Linked DNA regions of Homo sapiens. The protein of the gene in region 3 interacts with the protein of the main gene of each other region in a pairwise test. Each region holds a gene or a part of one and is shown on either strand. Other genes may lie near its edges. The genes, in order: KCTD7, AP1M1, PAX6, HMBOX1, QRICH1, MISP and SIGLEC6.

What was found.
Region 1: the proteins of PAX6 (region 3) and KCTD7 interact in binary tests that used the Homo sapiens proteins (3 or more experiments, as listed by UniProt).
Region 2: the proteins of PAX6 (region 3) and AP1M1 interact in binary tests that used the Homo sapiens proteins (3 or more experiments, as listed by UniProt).
Region 4: the proteins of PAX6 (region 3) and HMBOX1 interact in binary tests that used the Homo sapiens proteins (3 or more experiments, as listed by UniProt).
Region 5: the proteins of PAX6 (region 3) and QRICH1 interact in binary tests that used the Homo sapiens proteins (3 or more experiments, as listed by UniProt).
Region 6: the proteins of PAX6 (region 3) and MISP interact in binary tests that used the Homo sapiens proteins (3 or more experiments, as listed by UniProt).
Region 7: the proteins of PAX6 (region 3) and SIGLEC6 interact in binary tests that used the Homo sapiens proteins (3 or more experiments, as listed by UniProt).

Annotation. Positions count from the first base shown.
Region 1 is NC_000007.14:66,638,881-66,642,116, reverse strand, and holds part of KCTD7 (BTB/POZ domain-containing protein KCTD7), read right to left. Parts: coding exon 2,885-3,236; 3' UTR 1,724-2,884; coding exon of another isoform or gene 1,723-1,723; 3' UTR 1-1,722. UniProt on the Homo sapiens protein: May be involved in the control of excitability of cortical neurons.
Region 2 is NC_000019.10:16,221,574-16,225,976, forward strand, and holds part of AP1M1 (AP-1 complex subunit mu-1), read left to right. Parts: intron 1-4,403. UniProt on the Homo sapiens protein: Subunit of clathrin-associated adaptor protein complex 1 that plays a role in protein sorting in the trans-Golgi network (TGN) and endosomes.
Region 3 is NC_000011.10:31,801,323-31,805,725, forward strand, and holds part of PAX6 (paired box protein Pax-6), read right to left. Parts: exon of another isoform or gene 4,067-4,403; intron 3,720-4,066; exon of another isoform or gene 3,536-3,719; intron 2,738-3,535; exon of another isoform or gene 2,405-2,737; coding exon of another isoform or gene 2,262-2,404; exon of another isoform or gene 1,513-2,261; coding exon 1,382-1,512; coding exon of another isoform or gene 1,307-1,381; intron 591-1,306; coding exon 549-590; intron 455-548; coding exon 239-454; exon of another isoform or gene 1-238. UniProt on the Homo sapiens protein: Transcription factor with important functions in the development of the eye, nose, central nervous system and pancreas. Required for the differentiation of pancreatic islet alpha cells.
Region 4 is NC_000008.11:28,896,426-28,900,828, reverse strand, and holds part of HMBOX1 (homeobox-containing protein 1), read right to left. Parts: intron 1-4,403. UniProt on the Homo sapiens protein: Binds directly to 5'-TTAGGG-3' repeats in telomeric DNA. Associates with the telomerase complex at sites of active telomere processing and positively regulates telomere elongation.
Region 5 is NC_000003.12:49,055,787-49,060,189, forward strand, and holds part of QRICH1 (transcriptional regulator QRICH1), read right to left. Parts: intron 2,105-4,403; coding exon 1,076-2,104; intron 1-1,075. UniProt on the Homo sapiens protein: Transcriptional regulator that acts as a mediator of the integrated stress response (ISR) through transcriptional control of protein homeostasis under conditions of ER stress.
Region 6 is NC_000019.10:753,209-757,611, reverse strand, and holds part of MISP (mitotic interactor and substrate of PLK1), read right to left. Parts: intron 3,166-4,403; exon of another isoform or gene 2,803-3,165; intron 723-2,802; 5' UTR 666-722; coding exon 1-665. UniProt on the Homo sapiens protein: Plays a role in mitotic spindle orientation and mitotic progression.
Region 7 is NC_000019.10:51,519,040-51,522,118, forward strand, and holds part of SIGLEC6 (sialic acid-binding Ig-like lectin 6 isoform 1 precursor), read right to left. Parts: intron 1,217-3,079; coding exon 1,043-1,216; 3' UTR 1-1,042. UniProt on the Homo sapiens protein: Putative adhesion molecule that mediates sialic-acid dependent binding to cells. Binds to alpha-2,6-linked sialic acid. The sialic acid recognition site may be masked by cis interactions with sialic acids on the same cell surface.

The DNA.
Region 1 (3,236 bases), on a different chromosome or scaffold from region 3:
TGTTATGGCGAGCATTGCACCATTGGTCCCATCTCCTGAAACTTTCACTTTGCTTTGACTCACTGATAACTACTGGCCCGTCTCAAGGCAAGATGAATCCAGTCCCTTGTCAAGTGAGAGGGATTTACTGACATTATGCACAACAATTCTATAAAGATGCACTTCCTTATGATCAGGGAGAAGCTTTCATCCTTTGGAGCCTTCCTTCCAGACCCAACCCTTCTTCTGTTCTGGGCCTGGCCATTTAGAGTTGAAAAGGGATCAAATGGGGAAAAGTCACTTCCACAGGGATAACCCCTTTATCTGGAGGCCGTTACCACAATCCACCACATCTAATTGCACTTTTCAGCCTGGCCTTGGTTTCTCATTAGAGAATGGCGAAACTAGGCCACTGAATTCCTTCACTCCATTTAGAAAGAGCTCTCAGCTTGCTGCCCAGTGTCACCTCTCTGCCTGTTCTACTGGCCCAGAGCCTTGTGTCCTACAGTGGCACAGAATACATTACTGTGAGGATCACAAAGGGAGTCAGAGAAACAGGGATTTCTCCAGCGAGAGAGAGGAACGGTGTTCTTACCCAGCATCCCTGTAATCCTAAGCAAGCCTTCAGGACCTGTTTTTGAGCAAACTTGCATTTGAGCAAACAAGTCTCTCAATGGCTTGCATGTATGGACTCTAAATAACCAAGCCCTGCCATGCTCCATGGGAGAAGGGGGAAGCAGAAGGGGTCAAGGCCACATTACTGAAAGCAATGGGCTTAATGAACTGCTCTCTGTTCACACAGACTTTTTCAATAGTCTGCCTCTCTGTCAAAAAATGAACACATATTAGGCAGTAGGTAACACCAATCAGAAGAACCAAAATGAAAGCCTTTTCTCTTAGAACAATACAAGAGCCATGTTTTGGGGCTAACCTCCAAGCAGGGACATCAGCTCCAGAAAAGAGACTATCCCTTTGTGTACGAGAACAATAGAGAGAGCGCATATCTCAGAACGTGAATGACTATCCTTTCCTCTTAGATCTCAGTATCCACCTCTTTTCCACCTCTAAAAGAGTACAACAGGAGTGCAAAACCACGCCCTGGAATCTTTGTTTACACATAGGGAACAGGAGATCACTGCCGTCCAGCCCCACGGAGGAATTCAGCCAAAGTCCCAGGGCTTGGTCTTCTCTTCCTCATATGAACACAGACTTCAGCTCCCCTTATACCCATCTTGTCTATCTGGTCCTGTAAGTCTGATACCAGTGAGGCTGTCCTCCCCAATTTATTTATTTATTTATTTATTTTTACGATGGTGTTGCCCAGGCTGGAGCACAGTGGCTAGCCACAGGCACGATCATAGTATACTACAGTCTTAATCTCCTGGGCTCAAGTGATCCTCCTGCCTCAGCCTCCAGAGTAGCTGGTACTACAGGTGTGTGCTCGAGTGGCCTGGACTACAGGCGTGTGCCCAAGTAGCTGGGACTACAGACATGTTCCTGGCTCGCATCAATTCTTTACACATTAAAAAAAAAAATCTCCCTTTACCCAGGAAGAGACAGGTACAATCATGATTAGAGAGAGACACCCTTAATGCAGCATGGAAATGTTACATTGTGATCAATGGTGCTACACAGTTCTTCCTTTAGGAGATGCATGTCCAGACCCTGACTAGTTGGCCTAGGCTGTAGACAGAGCAAGAAGGAAATGCAGTAGTAACAGATCCTTGGGGATCTTTTTCAATTTCTGAAATAGAGGAGTAAGTAAACCAAAATATACAGGAGTGAGGAGTAAAACAAAATATAAAGAAGTGAGTAAAACAAAAATAGAGGAGTGAGGAGTAAAACAAAAGGGAAGTTTTGTCTTCCTACGGCTCCTAGGATAGCTGTGTGTCTCACCCAGCCCTTCCTTTACCTTCTCAGAAGAGAGGCTCTCCTAGAAGGAGAATGTTACCAGGACAGAGGAACAGGGTTTAAAGAGAGGGGGTCCCCTTCCAAAGAGGTTCACCACAAACTGGATTCTAACACATGAGATAGCAGCCAAGGAGGTGTTCTGAGCCTCTAAAAAGGATGTTACATGTCAAAGATAACAGAAGATCTAGGCATCTTGCCTGCTTGACTTGGGGAATCTTCAAAAGAAGCCTCTGAAATTTGCATTCCAGCCCTGTGAGAAGATAACCCTGCAAGCAAGGAAGGTGGTGGAAGATAAGAGAAGCCGCGGCCCTAAGACAGGGCTGTAAACATTGTGGTTTTCTAAGGCCAACTGGGTGCATAGCTTTGGCAGCTATGGTTAAATCTCCAAAAGGTGGTGAAGAACATGTTCCGGAAGGAAAAGAAAAGTCTTTCCACATTTTGGGAATGTGGGCAACTATTCTTGGAGGAGAAGGGGTGCAGTGGGAGAGAAGATGCTCTTTCTTCTTCAGCCAGGGGCTATGGGGTGGCTGGTCAGGTAAATCCCCCATCATGTTCCGTGTTCACACCAATATACTGAGCACAAGGGAGGGACGCTTGAACAGGGTTGAGGAAGTGATTAGGCCTACATCGATTTGGTAACGTGGCTCTAAAATGGGCAGAAACTCTCTTGCAAGGTCAAGAAGGTGACAAAACTTCTCGGGACTTCCTGGTCAAGCCCTAGCTATCAGCCTCAAGGAAAGACTACCATGCCTTGAGGAAAGGCCAGGTGAGCGCTGGCTGGAGTGCCTGCAGGCCGCAAGCCCTGAGCCCAACCCTGAGGTGCAGTCAGGGAGATTGGAGCTACACCTCTGTCCCCTGGGAGCTGTGCCTCAGGATGCTGTTCTCACCTCGGCAGATTCTGGGGCAGTCAGCAGCCCCTTCAGGGATCTTACTCCCAGAGCCACCAAGCAAGGTGGACATCCTCCCTGATGGGACTCTCGCCTACCGGGGCTACTCACCACCATGTGATCTTGAACTCATAGATGGGGCGCTTGCAGTAGTAGTGGTTCACGAGGTGCTTGTCACACACCCCGATGCACTGGTGGTCCACGGTGAGACCCTGGGCCGAGAGGTCCGTGACCAGGCAGTGCAGCAGGTCATAAACATCAGCCACAGCCTCCCAGGGCCCAAAAGACACATCCACTTCACAGTGGTGCTCAAAAAGCTGCCCGTCACTCTCACTCCGCTCAAATCGCAGGGAGTTGAGGAGCGGACACTCATAGGGGGTGATGGGCATCTCCTCCTTGAAGACACAGACCTTGAGCTTGGCAAAGCGGGCCTTCCGCTGGACCGCACGCAGCCGGGCG
Region 2 (4,403 bases), on a different chromosome or scaffold from region 3:
TATCTAACATCCCTTACATCTAAAAACAAATATCTTGGTTAAAGTACAAGGACACAGAATGTACTCATTCCCTTATATCTAACATCCTTTATGTCTAAAACAAATATTTCGGTTAAAGTACAAGGACATAGAATGTACATTATTTCTAACACTTATGATTTATTCTTTAGTGAGAAGGGAAACTTTGAAGAGGAACTTTTTTACTTTCTACAAAGCAATTCTCCTGTCTCAGCCTCCCGAGTAGCTGGGATTACAGGCATTCACCACCACACTTGGCTAATTTTGTATTTTTAGTAGAGACAGGGTTTCTCCATGTCGATCAGGCTGGTCTCAAGCTCCCAACCTCAGGTGATCCACCTGCCTCAGCCTCCCAAAGTGCTGGGATTACAGGCATGAGCCACCGCACCCAGCCCTCAGATATGTTTTTGTCATTTTACTCTTCCTTCAGGACTCCAGTGACATGAAAGACCTTTGGTTATTATATCATGTGTCCCTGAGGCTGCTTATTTTATTCTATCTTTTCTTCTCTCTGTTAGATTGGATAATTTACATTGAACTGCCTTTAAGTTCACAGGTCCTTTGGCCCTTTCCTGTTTATCTCCATTCTGTTATTATTATTATTACTATTATTATTATTATTTTTTTTTTTTTTGAGATAGGTTCCCACTCTGTCATCCAGGCTGGAGAGCCATGGAGCAAGCATGGCTCACTGTAGCCCCAACCTCCTGGGCTCAAGCGATCCTTCTGCTTCAGCCTCCTGAGTAGCTGGGACTACAGGTGTGCACCACCAAGCCTGGCTAATTTTTAAAAAAAAATTTTTGTAGAGATGAGGGTCTCTCTGTGTTGCCCTGGCTGATCTAGAACTCCTGGGGCAAGTGATCTTCCCACCTCAGCCTCCCAAAGTGCTGGGATTACAGGCATGAGCCACTGTACCTGGCCTCCATTCTGCTATTAAGTCCATTGAGCAAGTTGTTTATTTCAGTTACTATATTTTTAAAAATTTTCCATTTGATTCTTCTCTTTTTGTTTGTTTTTGTTTTTGTTTTTGTTTTGAGACAGGGTCTTACTCTGTTGCCCAGGCTGGAGTATAGTGGTGCAGTTATAGCTCACTGCAGCCTCAACCTCGTGTGTTCAAGTGATCTTCCCATCTGAGTGTGCTGAGTAGCTGAGACCACAGGCACGCACCACCATGCCTGGCTAATTTTTTTTTATTTTTTATTTTGTAGAGACCAGGACTTGCTGTGTTGCCCAGGCTAGTCTCGAACTCCTGGTTGATTCTTCTTTATCATCTGTTTCTTTGCTGAGACTTTCTATTTTAACATTTGTTGCAAGCATTTGCAATTTTAAAAATAGCTGTTTAAAGTCTTCATCAGATAATCCCAACATCTGTGAAGTGTTGACAGTGGTTGATTGGGTTTTCCAGGCAAGTTGACATTTTCGTGGTTGTTTGTATGCTGAGTAATTTTGGATTGCATCCTGGACTTTTTGAGCATTATGTGGTGATACTCTAGGTCTTATTTAAGCTATATGGGAAATATTGATATTTTTGTTTTAGCCAACAGCCAATCTTACTTTCAGGCCACAAGTTCCAATCCCCAACCTGTAGGCCATGAGCATCACGTCAGTTTTTAAAGCCCCCGTGCCATTTCCTGGTCAGATCTCCTGGGCGTGCACTGCCCAGTGGTCATTCTGGGACCCGAGTGGTTAGTTCAGTTCTCAAACTCTTTCGTAAGTCAAACTATGGTATATGCACAGGATTCACAGATGCTCGATTCTAGAGAGTTCTGGAGACATAAACCACTTCATGGGGTGACTTTCCTGAGCTTCTGGCTCTGTGCTGTCTACCTGGTACTTTTCTGATTCCTTGCGGTTTACTGTTGTACACGTCTGCCATTGGGCCCACTTCCCAGCCCACATGGAGAGAGGACAGAGAGAGAAAAGGACAACGGTTGCCCCACCCCCTCGGAACAGTAGCTGGCACCACAGGGCCTGGGGCATGAGGAACAGGGGAGATGGGGGGCTTCTGTGTTTTCCAGGAGAGTCAGGAGTTCCTCTTCTGGCCCCAGAGCCAGGCCTGGAGGCTCTGCTGAGCTCTCGTGTGCTCTGTGGTGCACACTTCTGCTTCCAGATTGCTGCTGCACTTTCTCGTGGGGGGCGGTGGGAACACTCTGCATTCGTGGCTCTTCCCTGGTCCACCTGCTGCTGTCTTCAGTCTTCCGGCAGCTGCCAAGCCTCCTGCCCAGGTTTCAGAGCTGTAGTCAGTGGCAGGGGAAGGGGCGCCAGCCGACCTGCCTCACCAGCCGCTTGCTTTCTTTTGTGTTCACGCTGGCCTCATCCCTGCGGTGTGGGTGGACTGTATGGGCTCAGCCAATCCAGTCATGCAGGTCACTCAGGTCCCGTTTCTGACGGCCACTGGCAGTGCAGCATTGAGCACGCTTGCTCAGCCCCAGACGTGTGCACTTGGGTGTCTCCGTGACCTGGGCCAGGATTTCTGGAGGACTGAGGCTGCAGACATGGAATTGCCAAGGAGAGTGCTGCCCAGAAAGACTGTCTCGCGCACTCCGTGCAGACCTCTTCGCTTTCTTACTTTCCGGGACGGGACAGTGGCCTCGCTAACCACATTCCCCTCTCCCCTGGGGACTCTTGTCTGATTGTTTATTGAGCCGAAAACAGGGTCCATCTGGGTGCTGTGGGGTGCAAAGGCAAGTCCCAGGGGGCAGCTTAGAGAGAGTCGAGCAGGAAAGCGCTAGGGCTGCGGGGGTCCCCGCCACAGTGCGCTGCTGCATGTGGCTCCGCCCGGAAGGATCCCACTCCTCCAAACAGGTCAGCACAAGGGCAGCTGTCAGGATGCCACCTTCCTAAGTGGCTTGCAGAGCTGGTGGCTGGGTCAACATTTGCCTCCAGATGCGATCATCTGAGTGCAGCCTGGTACTTACACAGCCGGGCCCTGAGCAAGCATCCCTTCAGCACCCGCCCTGGGAAGGGCACCGGCTCTGCGTGGCTGGTCACACCTCAGCTGAGAAGGTTCTGATTGCTGCCCGCAGGGCCGAGATCAGCCTCGTGGGCTGGGCAGCTTTTCAGCTCCACTCCCTGGGCCTGCTCTCGCGGCATTCACGACCTCATGTGTTCAGTTACAGCTGGCTGCCAGGGCCAGTCCCAACTCCCTGAGGGGGAGGCAGCACCCAAGGGGAATTAGGGGCCGTCACAGTGGAGTGGAGGGCCCTCCGAGAAAGAGGCAGGCAAAATCCCAATGCTCGGGCTCCTGGAGCCCCGGCCAGTGAGGGTCCCGAGCTCCTGAGCCTCCGCTTGCCCACTGAGCACCTCCTGCCACACACGCTGTTTCTGGTGCTGGACACGGCAGCGCGCAGCCCCACGTGGCTTCCCCCAGCAGGGAGAGAGAGAGAGAGACAAGCAGGCAGACGCAGGGAAGCTGTTGTGCACCATGGGATCAGGGAGCCGCTTGCGAGATGAGGACAGGACAGCACGAGGAGGTGAGGCTGGGGAAGGTGACAGAACCGGAGCCCTTGGGGCCATGTCCGGTTCCCTGCCCCTCCCAGGGCTGTCATTTGCTTGGCACCTCAGTTTTCCCAATTCCCTCAGAGGCGGCAAGCTGGTGAGGGGCTTTTGTTTGTCTACCCAGTGCTTTTTGGACATCATGCATAAGACTGCACAGACTCTCCTGCCACTCTGCAGACAGGAAATGCAGGCCCTGCACATGTTAGCCTGGCTGGAGCCAGCATCTGGGCCCAGGTATCCAAGTCGGTGGCCTTTGGCCCACTTGCTGGTGTGAGCATGGCCTCGTGCAGCATAGCAGTGTGCAGTGGTGGCCAGGGCTGCAGCCCCAGCGATTCTTCTGCCAGTCACTCTGTGCCCTCAGCACGGGGCCTCTGATCTGTGCCTGTTTCCTCACCTCTAAAATGGATGCAAGAAGAGATGCTCCAGCATCTTGGCTCACGCAGGACAGGCTAGGGGGTGCAGGACCGTCGCCCCGGTGTGGATTTTCAGTTGCACTTTCAGATGCATCTCGGCATGCGCAGTGGGTTACAGCCCCTCAGGTCATCTCCCCACAGTCCCTGCCCCAGAGGTTGTCGAGGCGTGTGTGGAGCAATGCCTGGCGCAGTGGAAATGCTGTCAGTGTTAGCCACTGTGACTGGATTTAAGTTGATTATTTTGGATCAAGTGTTATCACACTTCAGGGTGGCCCTGAGAAGCAAGAAGGGGTCAGGACTCAGGAAGCACCATCTCTCATAAGCCCTGGGGGGTGAGGGGCCAGTGGCCTCCCTGGGAGGCCAAGAGGAGAAACAGCTTTCAAGAAAAGCAAGTCTGGCCTGGTTCAAGAGACCCCAGCCCAGCCCAGCCCATCGGCTGAGCAGGGACCACAGGGTCCTGGCCCAGGTCCAGCC
Region 3 (4,403 bases):
CCCTCTGTTTTGCAGCATGCAAATGAAGTGAATGACTCCCCACACTTGACTCCCATTTTCCAGACAGTCAAAGAAAAGTCAGGGCATTCCTCTCTGTTCCCCCAGGTACAAAGGAGACAAATGTGGAGCAGGGAGAGGACACAGACTAAGAGACAGTGGAGAGAGAGGGTGGGAGGAGGTAAAGAGGAGAGAGCATTGGGCTTAGGGCAGGGAGGGCAGATGTTCTCAATGAACTTACGCTTGGTATGTTATCGTTGGTACAGACCCCCTCGGACAGTAATCTGTCTCGGATTTCCCAAGCAAAGATGGACGGGCACTCCCGCTTATACTGGGCTATTTTGCTTACAACTTCTGGAGTCGCTACTCTCGGTTTACTACCACCGATTGCCCTGGGTCTGATGGAGCCAGTCTCGTAATACCTGCCCAGAATTTTACTCACACATCCGTTGGACACCTGCATAGGGGAAGTGGACAGAAAACCACATTATTAATAATTTCAAGACAAAAATAAAATTGTTTAAGTATGCATTAAACAATGACAAGCTTACGTTTTGATTGTCCAGCACTTGGACTTTTGCATCTGCATGGGTCTATAACACAAAAATATACCTTCAATGGTATGAGAACTTACTGTAGAGAGCTTTTTTTCTTAAAATTACATTTGTAGCCCTAAAAACTACAAATATGATGATACTTTCAAACAATTTGAACTAAAAAACGAATTTAAAAGCTTTTTTTAAAAAAAAAACTTTTCTTAAACACTGCCTGAAGATGCATCAAAACGAAGTAGATAAATTTATTTTTGTGCTGACCTTGCTTAAAGTGGCGTTATGTTTTAAAGAACAAAGGTAAAAAATAAACTGATTTTTTTACTTCTTCTTCTTTAAAAAATACTCAATTGAGTAAATGTGAGTTAGGGAGGAGTAAATAGCATTTGCCTTTTAAAATCAATATATATTATTCATAAACATGAAGAATAAACAAATACCTCAAAAGCTGAGGTAAGCATGGGCTGGGGAGAGCAGAATGAAATTATGCCGGTTTATATAACTCAGCTTATTACGGTTCATAAACTGTTCCCACAATGAATGTCTTTACCAAATAAAAAGAGAAAGATTTTTTTAAAAAAATCCGCACACAATATTTTTCTGAAGCAGATGAGTTATCTTATGTAACTGACCCAGGTTGAAAGAGATAGGGAAGGATGGTGGAAGGAGAGGGGAAAGTGGGAAGGCAGGGGAGTGGGTGGGGGGACTGGGGACTGGGGTGGGTGAGGGTGGGGGGGTCCATAATTAGCATCGTTTACAGTAAGAAATGAAGAGAGGGCGTTGAGAGTGGAGGGCCGCGGGGGCGGCGAGTGGGGCGGCGCCGGGAGGATCACCTGCAGAATTCGGGAAATGTCGCACGGCCGGGCCCCGCTGTGAGCTAGCTCTACAATCTTCTGCCGGGTGGAGTCCGGCAGTGGCCGCCCGTTGACAAAGACACCACCGAGCTGATTCACTCCGCTGTGACCTGAGGAAAGGGAGAGGAGAGGAAAGGGGAAAAGAAGAGAAGAGAGCAGAGTGAAGAGGAAGAAGAGGGAGAAGAAGGAAGAGGAAGATGAGGGAGAACAAGAACAGAAAGGAGAGGAGGAAGGGGAAGAGGAAGAAGGAGAGGAGGAGGAGACAACCACAATGCATCCTCATCCCCCTGCCAACCTGTGCCAACCTCGGCGGTCAGTTCCCTGCTATCGATCAAATAAAGGACAACAGGACCACCAGCCATGCCAGACATCGGGCAGCCCAGTCCAAGCAACCGTGCCCCTGCCCACTGTACTGCAGCAGCAACACAGAGTCAGACACATGCCAAGGAACAAGTACACATGGACCTCACTACAGCCATAACCCCAGCAGTGTCCCCAGCCCACTGCCCCTCTTCATAAACACTGCAGCCAGCCTCTGAACCCACAAAGCGCTAAGAACCGGCTCTATAAATCTCCCAAAGATCCCCTCTGAGTGTCACCGCAAACCATGGGTTCTACAGATCCCACACTGAACCTTCAAGGTCTCTGCAGTGTTGGGACAGTGATAGCAAACCTTACAGCCCTTGAGTGCTCCCTTAGACGCTAAAATCCAGAAATGTTTCCATCACCGTCCAAACTGGCCAAGGCCTGGCACAAGCATCGAGTTGGGTTTTGTTTGGTTAGAATAGAAGAAGGAAGAGGAGAGAACAACCAGAGCAGCCAGTATGTGGCTGGTGAACCCCAGTCCAGGTTTCCGCACCTCCAGTGCAGACGTGAGAGTCAGAGCCCGGGCTCGGCTTCAGCCACAGACAAGTCCGGCCACCGCAAGTAAGGCTTAGAGCCGGGAGTCGGTTCGCACCAGCCACTGCTCGCTTTATTTCCGCCGCTGAACTCCGCCCTCCCCTTAGCCAAGGATAGATATTATCAAAAAGAAAAAACAGAAAAGAAAAATACCACATCATAGTGTTCCCCATCCCTCCTTTATCTTTGTATCTCACAACCTCATCCCTGTGGTCCAACCTTAGAGAATAGGGAGAGGGAGTTAGCCCCTCTTTGTAGTCCCCCTCCCCAAAAACCACAGACACACAAAGCCAATTGCCAATTTCCACTTCCTTAAAAATCTCCAACCTGCAGCCCCGACTTAGATAGCAGCCCTCCCAGGAAAAGACGTGGCTCCCTGTTCAGCTCTCCTCTCCTCTCCTCTCTTCTCCTTGGAGCCTACTGATAAATTGACGCCAGGAGCCTGAGCTTCTTAGCAATAAATAAGCTCCAAATATAGAAGAGGGGGGAAAATATGATGAGCCTCTCTGACATTTGTCTTTAAAATAAAACTAGCTGCACGTCAAGTTTGAGCTTAATTTCTGGAAATAGGCGGAAGTCGCTCCGGATCATGCATGGAAGGCTAATTGAAAAGATCAGTCGGGGCGCTTGTGGCAGCCTTGTCACTTTGTGACAGTGCTCCGCTCCGGGAAATTGCATCGTCACGACAAACGGGACCGTGATAAAACGACCCTTTCCGTCCTTATTTGTAGATCACTCAGACGAGATTGAACTGCACTTGTTTCCCCTTCGAGGGGAGCCGCGTTTTCAGGGTAGCCGAAGGCTTGGGGCTGAGGGGGGGCCCTCACCAAGGCGCGGGTGGGGGCCGGAGCCTCAACTCGATGAGAAGTGACAGGCGTTTGGGGGATCTGGGCTCCGGCCGGGACCAGCGCAAGCAGGGACTTTGCGGGGACACCGCTTCTCCAACAGAGCAAGGCCTGGCCCACGTTTCCGGTTTCTCCTAACTTCCTTTTATTGCCTTCCTTTGCTTCGCAAGTTCCATCTACCCCTCCAGCTACAGAGCCCCACCTCTAGGCACAGGAAGCTTCCCGGAAAAAGAAAGGCTGTCCCAGAAAGAGACCGAGAGAGACTTTCCAAACTTCGGGCATAGCCACGGCAATTCCCAGTCTGCTAATGCCAAGGCGGGCGCGTAAGGCCGCCTAAATCTAGACCTCCCTCCTCACTCATTTCAAAAAATAACAACGTGCCAGCCACCTCCGCAGATACCGCCGGCTGGTGCTTGCCCAGGAGACGCCAGGGCCAGAGCGCCACTCCCAGCATCGAAATGGCAGAGAGAAAGCGCAGCTCCAAATTCCCCTTCAGAGGTTAAGCCTCAATCATTGTGTCCCTTCCCTAGGGACTGCTGGCGCTCTCGCCCACTGGCGATGATTATGCGCCTAGAACTCGACCGCGAAGCAACTAATAGGAAAACATATGGTGTCAATTTGGATGCTCCGCGCCTCGCGCACACCCGGGAACGAGCGGCACAAAGCCCTGCCGGCCGGCCCGCGACCCCGCGCCCCTCGGGGCCTGCCAGCCGGGCCGCAGCGACAAACGCTCAGGGCTGCGCGCCCTGGCTGGGGCCCGCCCGAGAGACAGCCTGCGGCTGGGGAGTCTGAGCTCCAAGGGGAGAGCCCAGCCGCCGAAGGCGAGCCTACCGGCCAAGCCCTGGGGTCCGGCAGGTTCTGCACAACTACTCCCGCAAAGCTCGCCACCTTTGTGCCCTTTCCTCAGCTACGCGCTTACCAGCCCCGGAAGCACCAGGGGGCGACCGGCGTTTCCAAAACAGATGGATAAGGTGCTGGGGACCCTCCTTAAGCCTGTGTGGTTCGGCCAGGGCAGGCTGCTGGAAGACCCGGGCCTTTCCACACTTTGAGTTCAGTTGAGCCCCGACGCCGTGTGCCTCAACCGTAACCTCAAACCGGGCCTGGTTTCGCTGGGCCTCCAGGCTCCCAGGTCGGAGCTCTAGACTAGCCCTGCCGCGTACCAGCACCCACCACGAACAGGAAGGTGGGTGGGACCCCACGGGGTCTGGGCAGAGGAAAGCAGGGAGGTACAAGGGCCATAAGTATCAAAAGCGCTC
Region 4 (4,403 bases), on a different chromosome or scaffold from region 3:
TATTCCAAAGTATATAAGGTTAAAAAACAAACAAAAAAAACTCGCTTACCAGATCCAGAAAATTAGAATAAAGGAGAACTTAATGACAAAAGGTGGGAATAAAAAAAGACTGTCTTCTTAAGAGTTCATATACAAAAATACAGAGTTTAAGAAAATGAGCTGATGCCATAACCATAAAAACTAGATGTTTAGGGCATAATACTGTTAAGTACAACATCTAGAAAAATAATCATATTTACGCAAAATATAGCCCATGTCACGATCTACTGACATAAGCAATCAGAGAGGATGGACACAGTGTTTAATATGAGGCAGGCAAATATCAGGAAAGAAACACTCCCAATTATAAACAGATATTTGAGACTTCCACAGAACAAAGCATATAATAGGTTCTAAGTAGACATTATGCTGTCTATGCATTTTCCAAGCATTCTGAGGACTATACCAATTAGAATTACCTGATATACTTATGAAGGATATATATTCCTGGGCCCATCTCAGATTTTAGGAATCTGGGGGTAGAACTCAGGAAACAAAATATATATATATATATATATTTTTTTTTTTTTTTTTTGAGACGGAATCTTGCTCTGTAGCCCAGGCTGGAGTGCAGTGGCGCAATCTCAGCTCACTGCAACCTCTGCCTCCCAGTTCCCAGTTCAAGCAATTCTCCTGCCTTAGCCTCCCGAGTAGCTGGGATTACAGGCGCGCCATGATGCCCAGCTAATGTTTTAGTATTTTTAATAGAAACAGGGTTTCACCATGTTGGCCAGGCTGGTCTTGAACTCCTGATCTCATGATCCGCCCACCTCAGCCTCCCAAAGTGCTGGGATTACAGGTGTGAGCCACTGCGCCCAGCCAGAAACTAAAATTTTAATACTTTTTCCAGGCAATTCTTCAACACAAAAGTTGAGATCACTGTTTCCTTCTGTTGTAGCCTAAGTGCTTAGAACTCTGTGACTCCCCAACTATTTATCTCCTGTGGCTTTGTAATCTGACTCCAATCTTCTAGGTTCCTTAGTTGCCTATCCTTGACTTGTACTTATTTCTAAAAATCTTGGCCCTGGTTTGGTAATATAATAAAGACTTGGATATGGAAATTTTAGCTCTGAAGTCCATATAAACTCCAATACTGACATAGGAATAAAAAGCTCCAGTTCCTTTCCCTGAAATCATGGAGCTTTTGTTAAATATCACCTATGGTGTTGACTGGACATTGGATTGACCCAGTATGTCAATTCTTTTGTTGCCAGATCTGCAGAGAACAAGATGCTCACTACTACAGACTCAACTATTTGAATTCCTGCTTATTGTCTCTAAAGAAAGAAGGCACAAATTTTCTTGTCAGGGATGAATGACATTTGCTAAGAGAACAGTTGTCACTATATAGATAGAGGGTGCCTATGAGAATGTTCCAGTTCCTAGAGTAGTGATGAAATGAGTTCTCCTAAGATGTCTCTAGATCTTAATGATGGGACAAAAGAATGTCTACTTGATATGAATAAGAGCTTCTTTATTCAATAAGGGATAGTCTTTGATAGCAGCAATGAGGATCCTGATACAATGGCTTCTAGATACTTTCATGCTTAGTAGGTTAGTGATCCAAACTGTAGAGATAGTACGTTCATGTATCCAGGGCTACCTCTCATTCTCCTTCCTTAATCCTAGCTAGTTCTTATAGTCCTACTTTGTCATCTTTCTGGTTTGCCTGAGGTGACTAGAATAAAAAGCAAATCTTAAATTATAGGAGTCTTTTGCTATTTCCAGCAAACTGATCCTTGCAGAAAAGGATTAAATCCAACCTATCTTTGTATCCCACAAAGTACCTCATCACGCACTGCTAGACTTGACATGTTTAACTGAGTGCCTTGTTCAACACCAACAAGAGAACCCTCCTCATAAAAAGCATCTAAAAGCTTAAGCCTCATATAAAAGGTGCTTTCCACGCTACCTCCCACCAAGGTCACGGGATAAGGATAGACATTTAAGTCATGGTGGTCATGCAATGCATTCAGATTTCTCTCTTGCCAACTGAACTAAAAGAAACACACTGTCACCATCAACAGGTAAACTCTAGTTGAAAGAACAGTTCAAGTCAACACCATGGCAAATCAAATCCACTTACCAGTCAGAGAAGCAGAGACTATGAAAAACCAGGGCAATACAAACAGAACTGGAAGGGAGAAGTGAGAAAGGGAGATGAAGCAGACATGGAAGGAGATGCTGAGACAAGAAACCATTTATCACCAGAACGAGAGCTTGAGAGACTAGCTTCTCAGATTCCTAACGTTTCTCCCATTCACACAAGGTCTAGTCACTCTTCTTCAACCCAAAACAGCTGAATCCCTACAACGCCTGTCCTTGAAGCCAAATGATCCCTAATTCAAGCATTATTTTTTAGTACGTACACCAAGACAAATAGAAAGCTAGAAACATAAATCCAAGGAGGAAAAAATAATTCTACCAGGAAAAAACTGAAATCACAGGTAGCCAAAAAGCTTTGTAAATATGAATCTTATTTATCAGGAAGTACCATCAATATTTGTCATATTCCTGCTAATGAAACAAATTAAACTTTGTCTTTTTTTAATAGAAATTATCACAGTATTGACAAATGAAAAATTGTCTCAAACCCAGAGAAGACAAAAATCAGGTGATCTACCTTTATTTGTTAATACATTTGAAAATATTTTGTTAGCCTGTTTAAAGCAGACTTCCGTTGTTGTCTGTAATAATCGATAGTATATTGGATTAACAGCCTCATCTTTTAAGACAGGCTTTATAATCATATGGCTGATTAAGGGGCAGCAAAGTATAACCAACCCTGTAACTATCCTTTAACTTGTACCTAACAAAAATAGTAACCATAACCTCCCCTTTTATTCTGTAAAGATCCTTTTTCTGAAAATATCTTTGAACTAACTTCCTTTAAAGCTAGTTCCCTTGCAACAAGTACAAAATAAAACTATGACATATGCTGACAATCAATTAATCTGACAAGTTTGCATTAACACTGTCAAAACCAAACTAATGTCAAAATAGCTGTAATTTTGGTTATCTAACACAGATTCTAACATATCCTCTCTAGCAACAAACATACCATGTAAGCCTTGAATTTATTTAAAATTTAAATCTTTTTTTGTTTGTTTGTTTGAGATAGAGTCTCGCTCTGTTGCCCAATCTGGTGTGCAGTGGCGCCACCTTGGCTCACTGCAACCTCCGCCTCCCAGGTTCAAGTGATTCTCCTGCCTCAGCCTCCTGAGTAGCTGGGAGTACAGGTGTGTGCCACCACGCCCGGCTATATTTTTGTATTTTTAGTAGAGGCAAAGTTTCACCATGTTGGTCAGGCTGGTCTTGAACTCCTGACCTCATGATCCATCTGCCTTGGCCTCCCAAAGTGCCGGGATTACCGGCATGAGCCACCACGCCCAGCCTCATTTAAATCTTACACATTTTATTTGTGGACAATTTCAATGTTATCGTTAACTTTTACCAGAAAATTTTAATGGGTCCTAATATTATAATTCCTCATTTAAAAAAAAAAAACTAGCCGACCAGTGGCTTACGCCTGTAATCCCAGCACTTTGGGAGGCCAAGGCGGGTGGATCACCTGAGGGGGGATTCGAGACCAGCATGACCAACATGGAGAAACCCCGTCTCTATTAAAACTACAAAATTAGCCGGGCATGGTGGCGCATGCCCATAATCCCAGCTACTCAGGAAGGCTGAGGCAGGAGAATCACTTGAACCTGGGTGGCAGAAGTTGCGGTGAGATGACATCGCGCCATTGTACTCCAGCCTGGGTAACAAGAGCGAAACTCCATCTCAAAAAAAAGAAAAAAAAAAAAAACCTAGCCAATATTCAGATTCTCATAACAAAAAAAAAAATTGGTATGTTTGCAATGTCAGGTTCATCTAAAAAATAAACTTTTAAAAGAAAGTTTAAGTGGAATTTTTCATAAAAACTTTCAGGATGTGCCAATGCAACACTTAATGACAGAGATACACTCTGAGAAACGCACCATTAGGCAATTTCATTGTTGAGCGAACACCATAGAGTGTACTTACACAAGCCTAGGTGGTATAGCCTATTGCTCCTAGGCTACAAACCTGTACAGCATGTTACTGTATTAAACATTGTAGGCAACTGTAACGCACTGGAAAGTATCTGTGTTTCTAAACCTTGGAAAAAGTACAGTTAAAATATGATATAATCTTATGGGACCACTGTCATATATTCAGTCCGTTTTTGACTGAAACATCATTATGTACTACATGACTGTATTACATAAGGCAAAGAGTGAAATTACTGATCCAATAATTGGTTATCTTTCTCCTTAGCTATATTGACAAAACAACAGAACTTATGAAGAGGAGGAGAATCATTCAATCTTTGCAGTAAG
Region 5 (4,403 bases), on a different chromosome or scaffold from region 3:
TTCAGCCTCCTGAGTAGGATTACCTGGGATTATAGGTGTGTGCCACCACACCCGGCTAATTTTTGTATTTTTAGTAGAGACGGGGTTTCACCATGTTGGCCAAGCTGATCTCAAACTCCTGACCTCTGGTGACTCACCCGCCTTGGCCTCCCAAAGTACTGGGGTAACATGCATGAGCCACCGTGCCTGGCCCCTACTTTTTTCTTTTGACAGAGTTTTGCTCCTGTTGTCCAGGCTGGAATGCAATGGCGCAATCTCAGCTCACTGCAACCTCTGCCTCCTGGGTTCAAGTGATTCTCCTGCCTCAGCCTCCCGAGTAGCTGGGATTACAGGTACCTGCCACCATGCCCAGCTAATTTTTGTATTTTTAGTAGAGACGTGGTTTCATCATATTGGCCAGGCTGGTCTCAAACTCCTGACCTTGTGATCCGCCTGCCTCGGCCTCCCAAAGTGCTGGGATTACAGAAGTGCACCACCTCGCCCGGCCGCCCCCGTAACACAAAAACTCTTGGGAGGTCCCACCACATAGACGGCATATTCAAGCCTCCCAATGGTGATCACTTTTAACAGGCTCCTTATGAGTTATTTTAGCTTTTCTAATTCACCCACACTGTGTGCCCAAAGATGAAAAACAGAATGAACAATCTCACAGCCTCTCCAGTGATGAGTTTGTAATCTATGTGATAAACTACAAGTGTTTTGCTAAAACCATTTACTTATGATACAAGGAAACAGCACTGGGACACACTTGAGGTGTCCCATTCATCTACACCTGTAACTTTACTCTTCCTGAGAAGAGATTACAAAGAAGTGTCCATGGTACTTAAACCCAAAATGTCTCCAAAACTCCAAAGCAATTCCTGGCCATCTCATTTACCTCCAGGTACCAGGATAAACTCTTTTTTCTGTTGCATAGCCTCACGTGATGTTTCTCCCCCTCTTCTCCCAAATACTAAATACTGCATCACTGTAAGAGTAACAGCAGTAAATAAGCCAGAGGTTGCGAGGCAAGCTCTGTGCTGCACTGGGCCCTGAGGGACCAGGCTGCCTGCCCTACTGATAAGTCTTCACTTACTGAACAAGTAACTTGGAGTTGCTGCTGCTGCTGCTGTGGTGGTGGTGTCTGTTCCTGGGGAGTTTGCTGCTGCGGCTGCTGTTGGGGGTCCCATATATGGACAGTTTGAGCCGTATTCTGGTACGTGCCTGCCACAGCCTGCACAGCCACTGGAATGTGGATGTTGCCATTCATGAACTGTGCTGGAAAGAGAGAGTTTGCAAGGGTCTGCACTACCTCTTCATGGGAGTTTTTCACTACAGATGTGGTGCCCACCATCTTCTCCTTGTCATCCTCCAGCTTAACAGCTGCCAGGGCTGTGGGTGAGCCACTGACGTGAACTGCGTTGTAGGCTTCCTGGGGAATGGCAATGTGGGTAATGCTCTGCTGCTGAGGGTCCCCCCGGGGCTGGGCAGAATAAACAGGGATGGTCCAGGTTTCTCCTGTAGGGCTAGTAATGGTCCCAGTGGCACTGTACAGGTGGGCACTGTCTACTGTCAGTAAGTCTGGCCTCAAAGACACATAACTCTGCTGCTGGCCCTGTGGAATGGCCAGCACGGTGGCCACCGGCTGCCCTGAGATGGCGTAGGACACAGTGATGGGCATGTCCACTTTGCGCTTCTTCACTGGTTGGAGGACACTGGCCGTGCCAACCCGCCGCTCCCCTTCCCGGGGTGAGCCCTGCTGGGATGGTGGTGGGGAAAGGGCACCCACGGTCTGGATTTGGATCTGCTGACCACCAGCAAGAGACTGGCCAGCCACCAGCTGAGCCTGGATTTGCTGATGTGGGATGTGCTCCTCCGGGATTTCTGCAGCCTGGATCTGCTGGGCTGCTTGCACGTGCTGCACCTGGATCTGAGCTGCTTGCAGCTGCGAGGGACTGGGACTCTGCAGAGACGGGGTCTGAATGGAGGGGGCTGCTGACTGTGGTGCCTGGCCTTGGATCTGCACCTGGACCTGGATGGGTTGCTCAGTAGGCTGGTGAACGGTGAGTTGTGGGGAGAGCTGAGCCGAGACCTGTTGCGGAGACTGCTGTACCTGCACCTGGACCTGTAAGCAACAAGATTCATCAGTGAGTGAACCAGGCAGCACTGAAAATCCAGTACCCAAGGAAAGAAAGAAAAGAGATCCCAGACAGGGGACCTGCAAAATGTGAGAAAACACTGGCATACTCAAGGCTTCTGAGAAGGACACAATACGTAAGACTAGATCCAGGATTGTCCAGCAGCACATTACAATAACAGGGACATATATCCACCCCAGAGAGCAAGCAAGACAATTAACTGGGGCCTAAAAAGGAAATACCAAAAAAAAAAATTTTTTTTTTTTAAGATGGACTCGCTCTGTCGCCCAGGCTGGAATGCAGTGGCGCAATCTCAGCTCACTGCAACCTCCGCCTGCTGGGATCAAGCGATTCTCCTGCCTCAGCTTCCTAGAGTAGCTGGGATTACAGACATGCTGGAGTCTAACAAGGAAATATCAAAACTTTGGTTCTTTTTTTTTTTCCCCAAATTCTCATTGTGTCGCCCAGGCTGGAATGCAGTGGTGCCATCTCAGCTCACTGCAATCTCCACCTCTCAGGCTCAAGCAATTCTTGAAGCCAGCCTCCCGAGTATCTGGGATTATAGACATGTGCCACCATACCCAGCTAATTTTTGTATTTTTAGTAGAGACGAGGTTTCACCATGTTGGCCAAGCTAATCTTGAACTCCTGACCTCAACTGGTCCACCCACCTCGGCCTCCCAAAGTGCTGGGATTACAGGTGTGAGCCGAAACGGCCGGCATTTTTATTTCCATTTTCTTTGAGGCGGAGTTTTGCTCTTGTTGCCCAGGCTGGAGTGCAGTGGCATGATCTTGGCTCACTGCAACCTCAACCTCCTGGGTTCAAGCAATTCTCTTGCCTCAGCCTCCTGAGTAGCTAGGATTACAGGAATGCATCACCATGCCCAGCTGATTTTGCATTTTTAGTAGAGACAGGATTTCTCCATGTTGGTCAGGCTGGTCTCGAACTCCCGACCTCAAGTGATCCGCCCACCTTGGCCTCCAAAACTGTTGAGATTACAGGCGTGAGCCACCACGGCCAGCATTTTAAAAATTGTTTTTGAAATGGAGTTTCACTCTTTTTTTTTTTTTTTTTTGAGACGGAGTCTCGCTTTGTCGCCCAGGCTGGAGTGCAGTGGTGCCATCTCAGCTCACTGCAAGCTCCGCCTCCCGGGTTCACGCCATTCTCCTGCCTCAGCCTCCCGGGTAGCTGGGACTACAGGTGCCTGCCACCACACCCGGCTAATTTTTTTTTTGTATTTTTAGTAGAGATGGAATTTCACCATGTTAGCCAGGATGGTCTCCATCTCCTGACCTCGTGATCCGCCCGCCTTGGCCTCCCAAAGTGCTGGGATTACAGGCGTGAGCCATCACAAGGGACCGTTTTTTTCTCTAAAGATAGGGTCTTGCTCTGTTGCCCAGGTTAGAGTACCGTGATAAGATGATAGGGCACTTTAAACTTCAAACTCCTCAAGTGATCCTCCCACCTCAGCCTGCTAAATAGCTAGAACTACAGGAACACCACCACCACACCCAGCTAATTTTTTTTTTTTTTTTTTAGACAGAGTCTCGCTGTTACCAGGCTGGAGTGCAGTAGTATGATCTCAGCTCACTGCAACCTCCGCCTCCTGGGTTCAAGCTATTCTCCTGCCTCAGCCTCCTGAGTAGCTGGGACTACAGACGCATGCCACCACCCCCAGCTAATTTCTGTATTTTTAGTAGAGACGAGGTTTCACCATGTTGGTTGGCCAGGATGGTCTCGATCTCTTGACCTTGTGATCCGCTCACCTTGGCCTCCCAAAGTGCTGGGATTACAGGCTTGAGCCACCATGCCTAGCCTTATTTATTTATTTTCTGAGATGGAGTTTCGCTCGTTCCCCAGGCTGGAGTGATATGGTAGTCACGGCTCACCGTAACCTCTGCATCCCGGATTCAAGCTATTCTCCTGCCTTAGCCTCCCAAGTAGCTGGGATTACATGTGCCTGCCATCACATCCAGCTAACTTTTTTTTTTTTTTTTTGAGACGGAGTCTCGCTCTATCGCCCAGGCTAGAGTGCAGTGGTGCGATCTCGGCTCACTACAACCTCCACTTCCCCGGTTCAAGCGATTCTCCTGTGTCAGCCTCCCGAGTAGCTGGGACTACAGGTGCGTGCCACCACGCCCGGCTGATTTTTTTATTTTTAGTAGAGACAGGGTTTCACCGTGTTAGCCAGGATGGTCTTGATCTCCTGACCTCATGATCCGCCCACCTCGGCCTCCCAAAGTGCTGGGATTACAGGCGTGAGCCACCACGCCCAGACCTAATTT
Region 6 (4,403 bases), on a different chromosome or scaffold from region 3:
CCTGCAGGGGTCCCCCTGGCCGGGGAGCTATGAGGGGCCCCCTTGTTCGCCTGCTCCAGACTCAGGAACTGCTGTCTCGCTGCCAGGAAGTCAATCTGCTCCCTGTCAACCACGTTCTCCTCCAGGGGCGTGGACCGAGGTGGGCCGGGGGTCCTGGGGTCTCCGTGGTCAGGAGTGCCCTGGAGCGTGGCCACGGTGCTGCTCTTCCTGACTGCCTGGCCCTGGATGACGGCCCAGCGCTCCCGCTCCAGGTCACACAGCCTCCTGGGGTCAGCGTCCCCAGCATCCAGGCGGTAGGTCTTCATCTCCTTGTCCTCCCCGTCCTCTGGGCGGAGTGCCCATGTTGGACGTCCCTGGTGGGCATCCCTGGCGCCCAGGCGGTAAACCTGCCAACCCTCATCCTCCCTGTTCTCCGAGTGGAGCCCCCGTGGGGACGGCTGGCCAGTGTAGGCATGCACGCTGTAGGACACCCCCTGCCTCTGCACGCCCTGCTGGGCCCTGTGGTCAGTGGGCCATGTCTGCGGCTCATCCTGGCCCCAGCCGCTGGCCTCGGGGCCCATGCACACCAGATGGTATGTGTAGCTGGTGTCTCCATCCAGCACCAGGCCGGTGCCACGGTGTGCCTGAGGGATGCCCAGGATGGGGTATCTGGTCACGCGGTCCATCTCTTCCGGGGTCTTGGCCTCAGCCTTCCTCCCGTGGGGTGGAGACCTCTGGGCTTACTGAGGGAGGAGAAGGAAATGAGGGCCATCAAGTCAGAGCACCTAGGGAGAGGAACAGCCTCCAGTCCCCCAAAGGGCAAAGGGTCCATCAAATGGCCTTTGTGATTGGTTTAGGGATGGGTAAGTGACACAGTCCAGCCACTCAGAGCAGCCCATTCTCTAACCTCTGTGATTGGTTTAGGGGTGCGTAAGTGACAGTCCAGCCAATCAGTGCATCCCATTCTCTAACCTCTGTGATTGGTTTAGGGGTGCGTGACACAGTACAGCCACTCAGAGCAGCCCATTGTCTAATCTCTGTGATTGGCTAAGGGATAGGTAAGTAACTCAGCCTGGCCAATCAGAGCATCCCACCTTCTGGCCTCTGTGATTGGTTCAAGGATGAGTAAATGGCCCAGCCTGGCCAGTCAGAGTAGCCCATTCTCTGGCCTCTGTGATTGGTTCAGGGATGGGTAAGTGACTCATCCTGATCAATCAGAGCATCCCACCCACTGGCCTCTGTGATTGGTTCAAAGATGGGTAAGTGACCTAGTCCAGCCAGTGAGAGCATTTCACCCTCTGGCCTCTGTAATTGGTTCAGAGATGAGCATGTGACCCAGTCTAGCCAATGACATGAGACCCTGGGACTTTACAATTAATGCAGAAGATGGGACCCTCTTCCCGCTGGTCTTGTTAGGCTGATGGAATGAGATAGTGAATTGCTGGGGACGTAAATGCCCCCAGTGGGTACAGCTTGCTTGACAGCAACCCCAACACCAGCAAAGCATCCTGAAAACTTTTAAGCTCCCTGATTCCAACCATACCTGAATCTCTGAATGTCCCGGTTACTACCCCAACAACTCGCATTATATGTTTCTAACATTTGCAGCCCAATAAAATCAGGGTGCCCTGCCCACCTTATCTCCCAGACACACACACCTGCCCTGTGGAGTCCAGCTCAGCCTTGATTTTTTTTTTTTTGAGATGGAGTCTCGCTCTGTTGCCCAGCCTGGAGTGCAGTGGCACAATGTCAGCTCACTGCAACCTCTGCTTCCAGGTTCAAGCAATTCTCGTGCCTCAGCCTCCTGAGTAGCTGGGATTACAGGCGCTAACCTCCCAAGTCCGGCTAATTTTTTGTATTTTTAGTAGAGACGAGGTCTCACCATGTTGGCCAGGTTGGTCTCGAACTCCTGAGCTCAGGTGATCTGCCCGCCTCGGCCTCCCAAAGTGCTGGAATTACAGGCGTGAGCCACCGCGCCTGGCCTCAGCCTTGATCTCTGAAGCCTTCCTTGGCCGCACCATATTTATCTGTGTCTCCTGTGCACTGAGCCTTTCCACCCTGAGCTCACTCTGAGACTCCTGGTGTGGGATTTTTCCATCTGACAATTACAGATGGCCCCTTGCTAAGGGATGTCAAATGGAGAAACTGAGGCCCAGAGAGAAGGACTGACAGCAACTCCAGTTTCCCGGCTCCCACATCCTGGTTCTCCACCCTGCCCTGCCCAGCTGGACACCTCGTCCCATCTGAGACAACATCCCCGCCTGGGCCTTGTCGCCATAAAGCCAGGATGGGCAAAGGAACACCGTGGACCTTGTCCCGCTGGGCCCAGGTGGGGCCGTGGAGCGAGCGGGTGACACCCTGACCCAGTGCCTTCCGGCTCTCGCCCTCTCCCAAGGGTCCAGGTTGCTGCTGGGCTCAGTTCCAGGAGCCTTCCCGGAGGTCACACACCTGCTCGCATCGCTTCTGTGGCTCCTGGCATCTGCAGGGCACAGTTCTCACACCCTGCTCCTGGCCTTAGCACGAAACCCCAATTTCTGTGGGCACCTCCACCCCAAGCCAGGCCCTCCTCTTCTACCCCAAACCAGACCCTCCTCTTCCACCCCAAACCAGGCCCTCCTCTTCCACCCCAAACCAGGCCCTCTTCCTCCACCCCAAGCCAGGCCCTCCTCTTCCACCCCAAACCAGACCCTCCTCTTCCACCCAAACCAGACCCTCCTCTTCCACCCAAACCAGGCCCTCTTCCTCCAACCCAAACCAGACCCTCCTCTTCCACCCCAAACCAGGCCCTCTTCCTCCACCCCAAACCTCGCCCTCCTCCTCTACCTGCAGCTCTCTCTGTCTCGAGGCTGCCTGTTTCTGCTTCTCCACGGCTTCCTCTGCTGAAGCCCATGGACACCTCCTCCAGGAAGTAACCCAGATTGCCCCTCCCCCAGAGCCATCATCTGAACACCTCCTTCATGTCAGGCCTTGTACCCAGCACCCGTCTTAGGTATTGTCTTTTGTTTTGAGACAGAGTCTCGCTGCGATGCACAGGCTGGACTGCGGTAGCGTGATCTCAGCTCACTGCAATCTCCACCTCCCGGGTTCAAGCAATTCTCCTGCCTCAGCCTCCTGAGTAGCTGGGACTACGGGCACCCGCCCCCACACCCGGCTAATTTTTTCTTTTTTTTGAGGCGGAGTCTCACTCTGTCGCCCAGGCTGGAGTGCAGTGGCGCGATCTCGGCTCCCTGCAAGCTCTGCCTCCCAGGTTCACGCCATTCTCCTGCCTCAGCCTCCCTAGAGCTGGGACTACGGGCGCCCGCCACCACGCCTGGCTAATTTTTTGTATTTTTAGTAGAGACGGGGTTTCACCATATTAGCCAGGATGGTCTTGATCTCCTGACCTCGTGATCCTCCCGCCTCGGCCTCCCAAAGTGTTGGGATTACAGGCGTGAGCCACCGCGCCCAGCCAGGACACCCGGCTAATTTTTGTATTGTTAGTAGAGACGGGTTTCACCATGTTGGCCAGGCTGGTCTTGAACTCCTGACTTCAGGTGATCCGCCTGCCTCGGCCTCCCAAAGTGCAGGGATTACAGGCGTGAGCCACCGTGTCCAGCAGACATCATCTTTCATAGTTGAGGAAAGGAAGCCTCACCTGAAGACACAGGGATCTCAAAAGCTTGAGCTCCTGACTCCTAAAAAAAGCACTGTCGGCTGGGCACAGGGGCTCAGGCCTGTAATCCCAGCTACTTGGGAGGCTGAGGTGGGAGAATCACTTGAACCTGTGAGGTGGAGGTTGCGGTGAGCTGAGATTGTGCCATTGCACTCCAGCCTGGGTGACAGAGAAAGACCCTGTCTCAAAAGAAAAACAAACCCCCACAAAGCAGGACTGTCGCTCCCGGGCCACCAAGGCTATTATTTAGATCTGCTGCCTTTACACCAACCAGCAGCATTTTTTTTTGTTTTTAAACAGACAGGGTCGGCCAGGCACAGTGGCTCACACCTGTAATCCCAGCACTTTGGCGGATCACGAGGTCAGGAGATCGAGACCATCCTGGCTAAAATGGTGAAACCCCATCTCTACTAAAAATACAAAAAAAATTAACCGGGTGTGCTGGCGGGCGCCTGTAGTCCCAGCTACTCAGGAGGCTGAGGCAGGAGAATGCTGTGAACCCGGGAGGTGGAGCTTGCAGGGAGCTGAGATCGCACCATTGCACTCCAGCCTGGTGACAGAGCTAGACTCCGCCTCAAAAAAAAAAAAAAAGAAAAAAAGAAAAAAAAAGAAAAACTTAGCCCCTCTCTGAACTGGAAAGTGGCATCAAACAGCATAAAGTGGAGAGACCGTGGGGAGCCGTGTTGAAACTACACGCAATGTGTCATGCAATCTTCCGCGCGTATCAAATGTCAGAAACTAAAATAGGGGAAACATTGAAAACCAGGCGGCA
Region 7 (3,079 bases), on a different chromosome or scaffold from region 3:
AATCTCAGCACTTTGGGAGGCCGAGGAGGGCAGATCACGAGGTCAGGAGATCAAGACCATCCTGGCTAACACGGTGAAACCCCGTCTCTACTAAAAATACAAAAAATTAGCCGGGTGTGGTGGTGGGTGCCTGTAGTCCCAGCTACTTGGGAGGCTGAGGCAGGAGAATGGTGTGAACCCAGGGGGCGAAGCTTGCACTGAGCCAAGATCGCACCACTGCACTCCAGCCTGGGAGATACAGCAAGACTCCATCTCAGAAAAAAAAAAAAAAAAAAAAAGCTAGCCAAAGCCAGATACAAGGCATTCATTTACAAAAATATACAGACTTTATGAAAACCTTTGTGTCAGGGCCTTTGTTAGCTGTTTTACAGCTAACAAAGCTGTATGTTAGCTGTATGCTTTCTTTGACCTTTCACAATAATCTGGTTAGATGGAAATTATTTCCCTGCCTTACAGAGCAGGGACATAAAGCGACTTGCTCAATAGCTGGCATAGATGGAGTTGAACTCAGTTCTCTTGGACAGAAGTCCTGTGGTCTGCCATATATACGAAGGTATTTATATAGTCCATTTACAACAAAAACATTAATTTTAAAAGAATTGGACACAGTGTTATGGGCTAAATTGTTCCCTTCTAAAATTCATATGTTGGAAGTCCTAAATCTCAATATCTCAGAAGGTTACTGTATTTGGAGGGTCTTTAAATAGTTAATTTATTTAAATTAGGTCATGGGGAGGCCCTAATCCAATATGACTAGTGTCTTTATAAGAAGAGAAGATTAGGACACAAACACACTCAGAGGAAAGACCATGTGAAGACACAAGGAGGAGACAGCCATCTACAAGCCAACAAGAGAGGCCTTAGAAGGGACCAACCCTGATAACACCTTGTTCTCAGACCTCTAACATCTGAAACTATACGAAAATAAAGTTCTGTGTTTATGTCACTCGGTTTGTGGTACATTGCTGTGGCAGCCCTAGTAACCAATACACTGAGAGGTACCATGTTCTCTCCAATCAAGGTTATGGCTTTGGACAATTCCTCACTTGTGTATCTTGATTTCTGAGTACTCAGTGTCGGTGACCTTTGGTTCCTGAGGTTGCACCTTGTGGAAGTGTAGGACAGCGTAGTGGAGCTCCTGCTCATCTTCTGAGATGGGGCCAGCCTCAGCAGGGTGGTCTGAAACTATGCCTGTCTGGAACTGGTGCTGATGACCCTTAATGGAAGAAAAGAAAAGATTCAGGGCTGGACAATAGGTTCTCAAAGAAAGCAGCCAAGGATCAGAAAGGGAGTAGAACTGATGGAACTTTATTATTTATCCATTCATTTATTATTTTATTTTATTTCATTTTATTTTATTTTATTTTTGAGATGGGGTCTCGCTCTGTTGTCCAGGCTGGAGTGCAGCGGCATGATCACGGCTCAGGCAGCCTTGAACACCTGGGTTCGAATGAACCTTCTGCTTCAGCCTCCTGTGTAGCTGGGACTACAGGCATGCACCCCACCTGGCTAATTTTTGTAGAGATGGAGTTCTACTATGTTGCCCAGGCTGGTCTTGAACCCTGGGCTCAAGGAATCCACCCACCTTGGCTTCCTAAAGTGCTGGGATTACAAGCATGAGCCACCACATCCACCGCATTCATTTATTTTAAAATATTTAATAATTAAGATTGGCAAGCCCTTAGTGAGTGTTTACATTAATCAGTCATATTCTATTCTCAAAAAATGCTTTGCAGTGGATTCCATGATTACATTCATCTTACAAACGGGAACACTAAGGCTAAGAGAGGCTCCACATGTTGCCTATAGACACACATCTATATAAATGCACCACTGAGAAGGACTCAGAACCAGCTTATTGTTGTGTAGGTCATGTGACATGTGCTAGATGTTAAGCCATGAAGAAAGCAGACACAGTCCCAGATAGTAGGCAGTGTGGTTTTCTATGAGATGCAGTTAGTTAAAAACAGGAAACAAAATCACTTTTTTAATTCATGATAGCAGATATTTTGAAATATAAAGCAGGGGCAGGAGTGGCATATCTGATTCCTAGACAGGTACTGGAGGACAGAACAGAGACCGGGTCCTGCAGTACAGGCCACCGGACGCCCTCTCCTGTACCTTCTCTTTCTAATGCCCCTGAAAACTTGAAAGTAAAGCATGGTAAAGAAATTATGTAATGATTCCCAACAAAGTGGGGATTTAACACACACTAAGTGTGTTATATCTCCAAATAAACCAAGAGGCAATACAAGAAATTATGGAATGAGCAAATAAGAAAAAGTGGGAAATCTCTGGGGAAACAAAATATTTTATACTGGAGTGTGTGTGTGTGTATATGTGTGTGTGTGTGTTCAGGGAGGCATTGGTGACAGTGCGTGAATGGCTACAGAAATGAGATTTATGTTCCACTCATGTCTTTCCTCCATCATTGGGATAATATATTCCTGCCTGCATTCTTGCTACACAAATCAGTGGCAAAGTCCGAGACTAAAGGTGTGAATTTCTGCAGGAGAAATGACAGATCAGCACAAAAGCCCTACTGAATGAAGAAAATAACAGGTGGAAATTGCCTCTCCCTGGGCTTCCCCTGGCCACCTTCCCCCATCCACACATCCCAGACTTTTGGAAGACAGTCTAGGTATTACCTCCCCCAGCACCAATTTTTCCTGAGGGTCTGAACAACAGGAATCATGACTTGAATTATTCTTGGTCAGTTCTCACTCAGGCTATGGTAGAGTAACTGGCACCCTCCCAGCATAATTAGAAAACTATACATAGTATGTAAAATATGTGTTTCACAAGGAAAACAGGCAGACAGGACTGTGACATCTGAAAGAAAGGAAACCAATGAGGTGAGTCTCATGATCAAATGACAATTTCCAAACTGCAGTACGTGGAGGATAAATTCAAGCAGAACACAAGAGTCTTATGAAACTGTGGAGGCAGCAACTGCAGTTCAAGTGGGAATGATGTGGGTGGAATTTGTAGAGCAGAGTACAGAGAGAAAAAACTACACAGAGAAAGAACTCCAAAAAATATGCATAGAGGTCCCCTTGAATCTTTGGCTGAATACTAA